2 linked regions of the Homo sapiens genome follow. The protein of the gene in region 1 purifies or fractionates together with the protein of each later gene. This does not show direct contact. Each region holds a gene or a part of one and is shown on either strand. Other genes may lie near its edges.

Region 1 (5,314 bases):
AGGCATTTAAACAGGAAGAGAGGAAGTCAAACTATCCCTGTTTGCAGACAACATAATTCTCCATCTGGAAAACCATATAGTCTTCATAGAAAAGCTCTTTAACTTACAAACAACTGCAGTATCATTTCAGGATACAAAGTAAGTGTACAAAAATTAGTAGCGTCCCTGTAAATCAACAACATCCAAGCCAAATACGAATCATAAACACAATCCCTTCACAACTGCCACAAAAAGAATAAAATATCTACGAATACCAGGAAGGTGAAAGATCTCTATAAGAATTGCAAAACAATGCTTAAAGAAGTCAGAAATGGCACAAATGGAAAACAACTTTATGCTCATAAATAGAAAAGATCAATATCCTAAAAATGATCATACTGCCCCCCAAAATTTACAGATTTAATGCTATTCTAATCAAATGACCAAAATATTTTTAAAAGAACTAAAAAAAAAAATTATTGTAAAATTCATATAAAACCAAAGAGTCTGAATAGCCAAGGTAATCACAAGCAAAAACAGCAAAGCTGAAGGCATTACATTACCTGTCTTCAAATTATACTACAGAGCTGCAGTAAACAAAGCAACATGGAACTGGTACAAAAACAAACTCATAGACCAATGCAACAGAATAGACAGTCCAGAAATAATGTCACTCACCTACAACCATCTGATCTTTAACAAAGGTGACAATAGAAATGTGGAACCAATTCCCTATGTAATAAATGGTGGTGGAATAACTAGCAAGCACTATGTAGAAGATTGAAACTGGACCCCTTTATTACACCATATACAAAAATCAACTCAAGATTAAAGACTGAAATGTTTATTTTAACATTATAAAAAACCCTGGAAGATAACTTAGGAAATGTCATTCTAGACATAGAATCTAGCAGAGAATTCATAATTGAAGATACAAAAAGCAACTGCAAAAAAACCAAAAATTGACAAATTGGACCTAATTAAACTAAAGAGCTTCTTCACAGCAAAGGAAACTATCAACACAGAAAACAGAGAACCAACAGAATAATAGGAAATATTTGCAAACTATGCTTCTAACAAAGGTCTAATGTCCAGAATTCATAAAAATCTTAAGTTTACAAGAAAAAAAAGACCTCACTAAAAAGCAGACAAAAAACTTGAAAAAGATGCTTTTCAAAAGAAGACAAACATGTGGCTAACACACATATAATAAAATGCCTATCAATAATTATTGGAGAAATGCAAAGAAAAACCACGAGATACAATCTCATGCCAGTGAGAACGGCTATTAAAAAGCAAAAAAATAGATGATGTCAAGGTTGCAGAGAAAAGGGAACGCTTATACACTGCTGTTAAAGTGTACATTAATTCAACCATTGTAAAAAGCAGTGTGGCAATTTCTCACAGAACTAAAAACAGAATTACCATTTCATCAAGCAACCTAATAATTGGGTATATACCCAAAGAAATATAAATTATTCTGTCATAAACACACATGCACAAGGGTGTTCACTACAGCACTATTCACAATAGCAAAGACATGGAATCGACTTGAATGCCTATCAATGGTAGACTGAATAAAGAAAATATGGTATGATCAGGCACAATGGCTCATGCCTGTAATCCCAGCACTCTGAGAGGCCAAGGCAGGTGGATTGCCTGAGCTCAGGAGTTTGAGACCAGCCTGAGCAACATGGAAAAATCCCATCTCTAAAAAAATACAAAAACAAAAATTACCTAGGTATGGTGGTGCATGCCTGTAGTCCCAGGTACGTGGAAGGCTGAGGTACAAGAGGATTGCTTGGCCCAGCGTGATGGCTCACACCTGTAATCCCAGCACTTTGGGAGGCCGGGGGGGAGGGTGGATCACCTGAGGTCAGGAGTTCAAGACCAGCCTGGCCAACATGATAAAACCCCATCTCTACTAAAAATACAAAAATTAGCTGGGCATGGTGGTGGTGGGTGCCTGTAATCCCAGCTATTCGAGAGGCTGAAGCAGGAGAATTGCTTGAACCCAGGAGGTGTAGGTTGAGGTGAGCCGAGATCGCCCACTGCACTCCACTCAGGGCAACAACATCAAAATTCCATTTAAAAAAAAAAAAAAGGCCAGGCACAGTGGCTCATGCCTGTAATCCCAGCACTTTGGGAGGCCGAGGTGGGTGGATCACGAGGTCAAGAGATCGAGACCATCCTGGCCAACATGGTGAAATCCTGTTTCTACTAAAAATACAAAAAATTAGCTGGGCGTGGTAGCGGGCACCTGTAGTTCCAGCTGCTCGAGAGGCTGAGAACGGCGTGAACCCGGGAGACAGAGCTTGCAGTGAGCTGAGATTGCGCCTCTGCACTCCAGCTTGGCCAACAGAGCGAGACTCCATCTCAAAAAAAAAAAAAAAATTAATCACATAGGAACACTTCTAGGAGGTACCAAGTTTCATCACATAAAATTTAGCATTAAACTCAAAAATCAAAATAACAGGATATAGGGCTGGGCGCAGTGGCTCACACCTGTAATCCCAGCACTATGGGAGGCTGAGGTGGGCAGATCACTTGAGGTCAGGAGTTCGAGACCAGCCTGGCCAACATGGTGAAACCCCATCTCTACTAAAAATACAAAAACTAGCCAGGTGTGGTGGCACAGGCCTGCAGTCTCAGCTACTCCGGAGGCTGAGGAAGGAGAATCACTTGAACCTGGGAATTGGAGGTTGCAGTGAGCTAAGATTGCACCATTGCACTCCAGCCTGGGTGTCGCAGTGCAACTCTTTATCTCAAAAAACAATCAAACACACAAAAAAACACAGGATATAGAACAAAGATGTTCACTACCAAGGATTTACCCTGCTAAAAAAAGGAATTGAAGTTTTCAGGAATCTATTTAACTCATCAATTATCTATCACATTGTTTTGTGGAAATGTATTCATTGTCTACAGCTGAAATTGAAGAGAGATTTTTTTTTTTTTTTCTTTATTTTTTTCCTTGGTAGCTACCATTCTAAAAGCTAGATGGAATTCTGTTTGAAATCACTCAGCCATAGGCCAAGCACGGTGGTTGATGCCTGTAATCCCAGCACTTTGGGAGGCCCAGGCGGGCGGATCACCCGAGGTCAGGAGTTCAAGACCAGCCTAACATGGTGAAACCCTGTCTCTACTAAAAATACAAAAATTAGCTAGGTGTGGTGGTGTGTGCCTGAAATCCCAGCTACGCAGGAGGCTGAGGCAGGAGAATTGCTCGAACCCGGGAGGCAGAAGTTGCAGTGAGCCAAAGTGGCGCCACTGCACTCCAGCCTGGGCGACAGAGTGAGACTCTGTCTCAAAAAAAAAAAAAAAAAAAAAAATCACTCCTCCATAAAAAAAAACATGTCCGAGAAACTTCCTAAACTCACTCTGAGAAAGAAAAAGGTAAATGAAAATGTTCAACAAATAAAATATATTATTAGATATTAATGTTTTTGAAACTCACCTCTTTTATGCCCTTTGCAAATATTTTCTTACCTTTCAAGCTCTACTAATAAAATGCAATACACAGTTAAAAAACCGAGGTGAGCTGGGCACAATGGCTCACGCCTGTAATCTCAGCACTTTGGAAGGCTCAGGCAGGTGAGTCACTTGAGGCCAGAAGTTTGAGAACAGCCTAGCTAACATGGTGAAACTCTGTCTCTACTAAAACTACAGAAACTAGCTGAGTGTGGTGGTGCACACCTGTAGTCCCAGCTACTTGGGAGGCTGAGGCATGAGAATCACCTGAACTCAAGATCTGGAGGTTGCAGTGGACCGAGATGGTACCACTGCGCTCCAGCCTGGGTGACAGAGGGAAACTGTCTCAAGACAACGAAAACAAGCCTTAGGTCAAAATAAGTGAAAAAACCTTTTCAAGACACAGATATGTCTTAATCATGTGTCAAGTCAGGCCATCCAATTACTTGAGAGACTGTCCCACCCCATCCTACTCACTAAAGTGCTCAATAACCCCCTCTCAGGAGACTCTGAACTATGCCCCAGTGAGTGTCTCAGGCGCATTTTACTCTGCAAGTTCTTACACCATCTCACTGGGGTCAGTTTTTTGCGGTTTGTTTTTGTTTTTGAAATGGAGTCTCACTCTGTCGCCCAGGCTGGAGTGCAGTGGCGTGATATCCACTCACTGCAACCTCCGCCTCTGAGGTTCAACTGATTCTCCTGCCTTAGCCTCCTGAGTAGCTGCGATTACAGGCCTGTACCACTACACCCAGCTTTTTTTTTTTTTTTTTCGTATTTTTAGTAGAGATGGGGTTTCACCATGTTGGCCAGCTGGTCTCGAACTCCTGACTTCGTGATCCACCCTCCTTGGCCTCCCAAAGTGTAGGGATTACAGGCATGAGCCACCATGCCTGGCCCTCGTTTTTGTTTTGTTTTGTTTTGTTTTCTAGAAATTTTTTACTATTTTTCTGTTCTCTAAAGGAAACCAGGAGGCAGAAATTATTTGTTTTCTCCTCAATACTGGTATCTGATTGACTGACCAGCAATGTGTCTTTAAGAAATGAAAGCTGGGTTGGGTGAAGACAATATTAATGTCTCATAAAATTAGCTTTAAAAAAAAAAGTGCACTAGGAAATGCCTTTTAGACTCAGGGCATCCACCTGCGCACTTGGGACGCTACACTCAATACCTCAGATTTTCCTATGAGAGAATATGACCCAGAAGCTGATATTTACTAGACACTCTAAGCAGACATAGCCATGGTGGGTATCTTCGTTTATCCCAATACAGTACTGAAACCCAGGTCCAAGAAAACCGAATGGTGACTGAAGACACATCACACTATAGTTTCCAAAAGGAAAACTTGACCCAAAAACATTCTGATAAGATATCTGTGACTAGGGAAGATAGAAGAAAAAAAAACGCAGAGATATTTTACAATACAGTGTCAGGAGATTATTCTTTGCTTTCTTCTCATAGGAAATATTTACAAAAAGAAAACAAACCTTTTTAAATGTGCCATCAAATGCTTTGTCAAAAAATGATTAATTGGCCGGGTGCAGTGGCTCACGCCTGTAATCCCAGCACTTTCGGAGGCCAAGGCGGGCGTATCACCCGAGGTCGGGAGTTTGAGACCAGCCTGACCAACATGGAGAAACCCTGTCTTTACTAAAAACACAAAATTAGCCAGGCATGGTGGCACATGCCTATAATCCCAGTTACTAGGGAGGCTGAGGCAGGAGAATCGCTTAAACCTGGGAGGCGGAGGTTGCGGTGAGCCGAGATCGTGCCATTGCACTCCAGCCTGGGCAACAAGAGTGAAACTCTGTCTCAAAAAAAAAAAAAAAAAAAAAAAAAAAAAGATTAATTGGCCAGGCGAGATGGC
Region 2 (5,314 bases), on another chromosome or scaffold:
CATTTCAGCTTATTCTGTAATTCCTAAGAGGAATTTCAGGTAAGAAAGCCTGGTGGAAAAAGGTTCACCTGTATGAGGACTGCAGAGGAAAAAGCAGAAAGAATTTTACTTTCTGTGGGTTCGGGGGCAGGGAAATCGGGCCAGGTGGTTAATATACAGGGTCATTTTTGTTTTAATATTCTTTTGGCAATACTTGGCCAATATTTTTCAAAGAGTACAAAAAGTACTAGAATGACTAAATTCATGAGAACTTAATACAAGGAAAGTTGTTTACTTTGTGGGATAATCCTAAAAGCCAAATAAAACTATGGGGATTAGATGTAAGTTTTCCTATGAACCATCCATGCATGAGAAAATATATGTATTCTACTCATTTAAAGTATACAAAACTATTTTAAAAATGGAATGACTCTGGTAAGATTAACAATGCAACTATTAGGAAATATTAATTGATCTCAACTTGAAAAACAAATAATGAAAATAAAAAAGTTATTTTCACAATCTTATAGGTAATTTGATCCAAGTAAAGAGTACAAGATATTTCCTAAAAGCTTCTTAACATTAGGTGCGTATGTATATGTGCACGACAGTAGGTTATCTAACTTTAGATTAAAAAAAGGATCAAACACAGAATCAACTTATATATGGAGATCTGTCTACAGAATGCAGACTTTCTGCCTTTGGAATAGTCATACTGGCTGGGTGTAGTGGCTCATGCCTGTAATCCCAGCACTTTAGGAGGCCAAGGCAGGAGGATCCCTTCAGCCCAGGAGTTCAAGACCAGCCTGGGTAACATAGGGCGTCTCCCCCATCTCTATTAAAAATAAAAATCATTTAAAAATATAATAAATAACAAAAAGTCATACTGACAAAGAGTTTGGAGAGTGAGTTAATTTACATGTAGTATAAACCAGAGGTAATTTTGCACTTGTCAGTATGATCTAACAGGATTTCTATTATTAAACTTGTCTTCATCTCTTCTGATGTCCAGCCATTCAACGTCCCAGCATATCTTTCCATGTCCTTACTTTTCTCCTTTCCCAGCTTAGATTCCATGATCCATCACCATAATCACTCATTTACAAACACCTTTAACTCCGGTGGCTTGAAAGACATTAGATTATGTGTCCAATGTTCATAATCTTTTTATTTTTACTACTGTTGTAATATTCTAAAGGATTAAAATTAACTTGTAAAAACAAACAACCTATAATCCAACAAATTCATGCCTTCTACCAGATCCAAATTCACTAACAATTTTCTTTCTTTGTTGAGACAGGGTCTCGCTCTGTTAGGCTAGAGTGCAGTGGCATGATCTCAGCTCACCACAGCCTCCGCCTCCCAAGTAGCTGGGATTACAGGCGTGTGCTATCATGCCTGGTTAATTTTTGTATTTTTTGGTAGAGACGGGGTTTCACCATGTTGGCCAGGCTAGTCTCGAACTCCTGACCTCAAGTAATCTGTCTGCCTCAGCCTCCCAAAGTGCTGGGATTACAGGAGTGAGCCACTGCACCCGGCCAACAGTTTTCAACAGAGGCTAGTATAAATTTTGTGTCTACTTACATCCGGAAGAGAGGGAAGATTATAAGACCCTCCCACTGGTGAGCTCAAATCGATCATAGGTGAACCAAAAGCCTTTCCATCATATCCTGCTGCACTAGTAATCGTGGGGCTGGAAGGAGTAGAGGATGTGCTGTTGGTAGTTGATGGGGTTCCCTGTCCACTGCTGATCTGCCACTACAGTAACAAGAAGAGAAGAACAAAGGCTATCAACAAGCTTATAAAATACAACATCTATGTAATCACTCACACAAAATGAAGTAGAAGAGTTCAACTGTAATTTACATGGAAGGAGAATGGGACAGCAAAAGACTGCACAAGTATATATAATTTTCATTAATCTTGTCAAAAAAAAAAAAAAACCAAAACAGTAAAAAGCACTGATTTTTACTGGAAGACAACAGTTAGTATATACCAGAAAATCACAGTACCCAATCTTGGCAGGTTTATACATATTGGAAAAAAAATGTAAATATATACATAGCAACTTCAAGGTAAAGATGGAGGGTTGAAAACATACATTTCTTCTATCCCTATCTGAAATACTTGAAAATACTAAGCTACAGACTGGTACTTTCAGGATTTTATATTCCTCTTCTCATATATGAACAGATAATTAGGCCTCGATAAATATCTGAGGAAAGTACTATCATTCCTGCTGAGATAAACACATTAAGATGATGATAGGCATGCTGAAGTATATAGAGGTGAAGCATGCTGCTGTCTGGAATTTACTCAAAACCTATTGAAAAACATGATGGGCTGGGCATGGTGGCTCATGCCTGTAATCGCAGCACTTTGGGAGCCCAAGGTGGGTGGATAACTTGAGGTCAAGAGTTCAAGACCACCCTGGCCAACATGGTGAAACTCCATCTCTACTAAAACACAAAAATTAACCGGGCGTGGTGGTGGGCACCTGTAATCCCAGCTACTTGGGAGGCTGTGGCAGGAGAATCACTGGAACCCAGGAGGCAGAGGTTGCAGTGAGCCAAGATTGCACCAGTGCACTCCAGCCTGGGCTACAGAGAGAGAGATTCTGCCTCAAAAAAAAAAAAAAAAAGGATGACTTGATGAATGGACAAAGGAATAGATAAACATGTAATAAGGCAAGTAGAACAAAATGTTCCCTATATAATTCTTTCAATTTTTATTATGTTTGAAAATTTTCATGCTGGAAGAAGGAAAGTAACTAAGTGTACTGCAAGATGCCGTATTTTCCAAACATGGTCATTCACAAATGAACAGCACTATATAAAATGTCTGAAACATTCCAATTTTGAAAAACCTAATTTATATATTCCATTGTAGAAACTACATACAGAAACATATGAAGTTGGACATGAATGTCTTCTTTACCACCTACTCCTCCCTCATATTCCCCACCTCTATGCCCCCTTTCCTCCTCCTCTACCAAGAACAATCAGTTGGTGGATCGTTTCAGGTTTTTTTCTATGTACATGATGAGGCTGGAGGAAAACACACATACAAATGAGATAACACCTCACAAAAATTCTATAACATGCTTTTCCTCACGTACTCAGAAAATCATATCTAGATTACTGCATTTTCTTAATATCTGAAAAGTATTCCACTGTATGAGTATACTCTAATTTGTTAAACTCATCTACTACTTAAAAGCAATTTCCCAGTAGATTTTTTCCTGGCTTGTTCCTTTACTTATTCATTCATGTTTACATTTTTGGTCAACAACCATTTTAAAAAAACATGCTTAGAGTATCTACTCATTAAAATACAATAAATAGGGAAGAGGTAAACATTTGAATACTGAGCATGTGCTAGGTGCTTGTATATACATTAGAATAAACTCTCAACATAACTCTGCAAGATACGCATTTTATAGCTGAGGCAAGGGAGATGCGAAAAGACTACGTAAGTGCCACAAAATTATTAGGAAAATAAGTAGAATTTAAGGCCAAACTGAAGCTTGGGTCCTTTTTACTTTCCTTCTAATGATGAAATAATAGGTATGAATTTTATTTTAAATAATTAAAATATTGTTTAAGAGAATTTGGTGATGATATAGCAAAGGCAAATTGATTATACGAAGATATGTATAGACACAGAGTGTACATACTTTTAGAATAAAATATTAAAATGATTTTATTAAAATGGATGTTATAGAATTATGAAAATTGCATCATCTTTATTTTGGTCTTGGAGAAACCAAAATCAGTCTACAATCAGCTAGACAGGCTGTTGTCATAGGAGCTTTGAGAAGAAAAAACACTGTGATAACTTTAAGATAATGTAAAACACAGAAAATATTTTTACCTGAAGACACTAAGTATATAAATAATACAGCCGGGTATGGTGGCCCACACCTGTAATCCCAGCACTTTGGGAGGCTGAGGCGGGCATATCACTTGAGGCCAGGAGTTCGAGACTAGCCTGGCCAACATGGTGAAACCCTGTCTCTACTAAAAATACAAAAATTAGCCAGGCATGGTAGTGGGCGCCTGTAATCCCAGCTACTCTGGAGGCTGAGGCAGGAAAATTGCTTGAACCCGGAAGGCAGAGGTTGCAGTGAGCTGAGATCATGCCACTGTACTCTAGCCTGAGTGACAGAGAGAGACTTTAAAAAAAAAAAAAAAAAAAAAAAAAAAAAAGGAGGCCAGGTACGGTGGCTTACGAGTTTAGGAGATTGAGACCATCCTGGCTAACACGGTGAAACCCAGTCTCTACTAAAAATACAAAAAAAATTAGCTGGGCGTGGTGGCGAGTACCTGTAGTCTCAGCTACTCAGGAGGCTGAGGCAGGAGAAATGGTGTGAACCCAGGAGGCAGAGTTTGCAGTTAGCCCAGATTGCGCCACTGCACTCCAGCCTAGGCAACAGAGAGAGACTCTGTCTCAAAAAAAATAAAAAAATAAAAATAAATAAGCTGTATCATATTAAATATGAATTAAATATTAAACTTCATCAGATATATATGTATTCCCTCTTGAAACTGTGCCATAATTTTGTTTCCAAGAAATCTTCTTGAGACGCTTCAAAGATTCATTTATTGTTCTATTTTGTGGAATGTAACTTGTATTTGTTAGAATACTTTTATCTTAGGAAATTTAATATACTCACCTAAAAGTTATCCATACCATATTATAAAAATTAATACCTATGGTCATTGATTATATTGGGCCATCACTTCTACATAAGTGGTTTAATTTCTCTTACTGATAAAAAGCATCAAACTTTGCAATTCACATTTATTTAAAAAATGAAAAAGAAGGCTTGCTCTTGGCTCTTTATAACCTGTTGCTTAATCTGTAAATTCTTTGTGATTTGAAAGTAGAAAGCAGCAGAAAAAGCAATTGAGAAAAGAAGGTAGATATATACCTGTTTTATGGCTTGTTGAGCCAAGAAAGCCATCTGTAGGGGGTTTGGCTTTATTGCTTGTCGTGGTATGTTCTGGTTTGGTGGATATCTCAGTTGTTGAGGATGAGGAGGAAGAACTGGTCCATTGGGTTTGGGGCTGTGATTCTGAAAGTTTATCAAACGTGGAGGCGGTTGCTAGAAAAAAGAAATTAAACCAATTTAGTAACAATCTTCTTCTGAAAAACAAATTATAAATCTCTATCTTATAAAACTTTTACAGAAAAATAGAACTCTGCCACAGATCAATCAATTATTAAGATTTACATAAGGGAATGAGGGGTGGGGGATGGGCAGACTTTCAGAATTTGTGTAAACAACTTTTTTAAAAGAACCTTACTAGGAAAGAACCTTGGGAGAGGGATT

The links. Proteins that work in one complex are often made in the same cells at the same time.
Region 2: the proteins of ZNF254 (region 1) and TRIM24 purify together in Homo sapiens (affinity purification with mass spectrometry; 2 studies listed by BioGRID and IntAct, with this or other methods). This does not show direct contact.

The regions. Positions count from the first base shown.
Region 1 is NC_000019.10:24,088,941-24,094,254, reverse strand, and holds part of ZNF254 (zinc finger protein 254), read right to left. Parts: intron 2,355-5,314; exon of another isoform or gene 2,240-2,354; intron 1-2,239. UniProt on the Homo sapiens protein: May be involved in transcriptional regulation.
Region 2 is NC_000007.14:138,567,253-138,572,566, reverse strand, and holds part of TRIM24 (transcription intermediary factor 1-alpha), read right to left. Parts: intron 5,087-5,314; coding exon 4,913-5,086; intron 1,738-4,912; coding exon 1,564-1,737; intron 1-1,563. UniProt on the Homo sapiens protein: Transcriptional coactivator that interacts with numerous nuclear receptors and coactivators and modulates the transcription of target genes.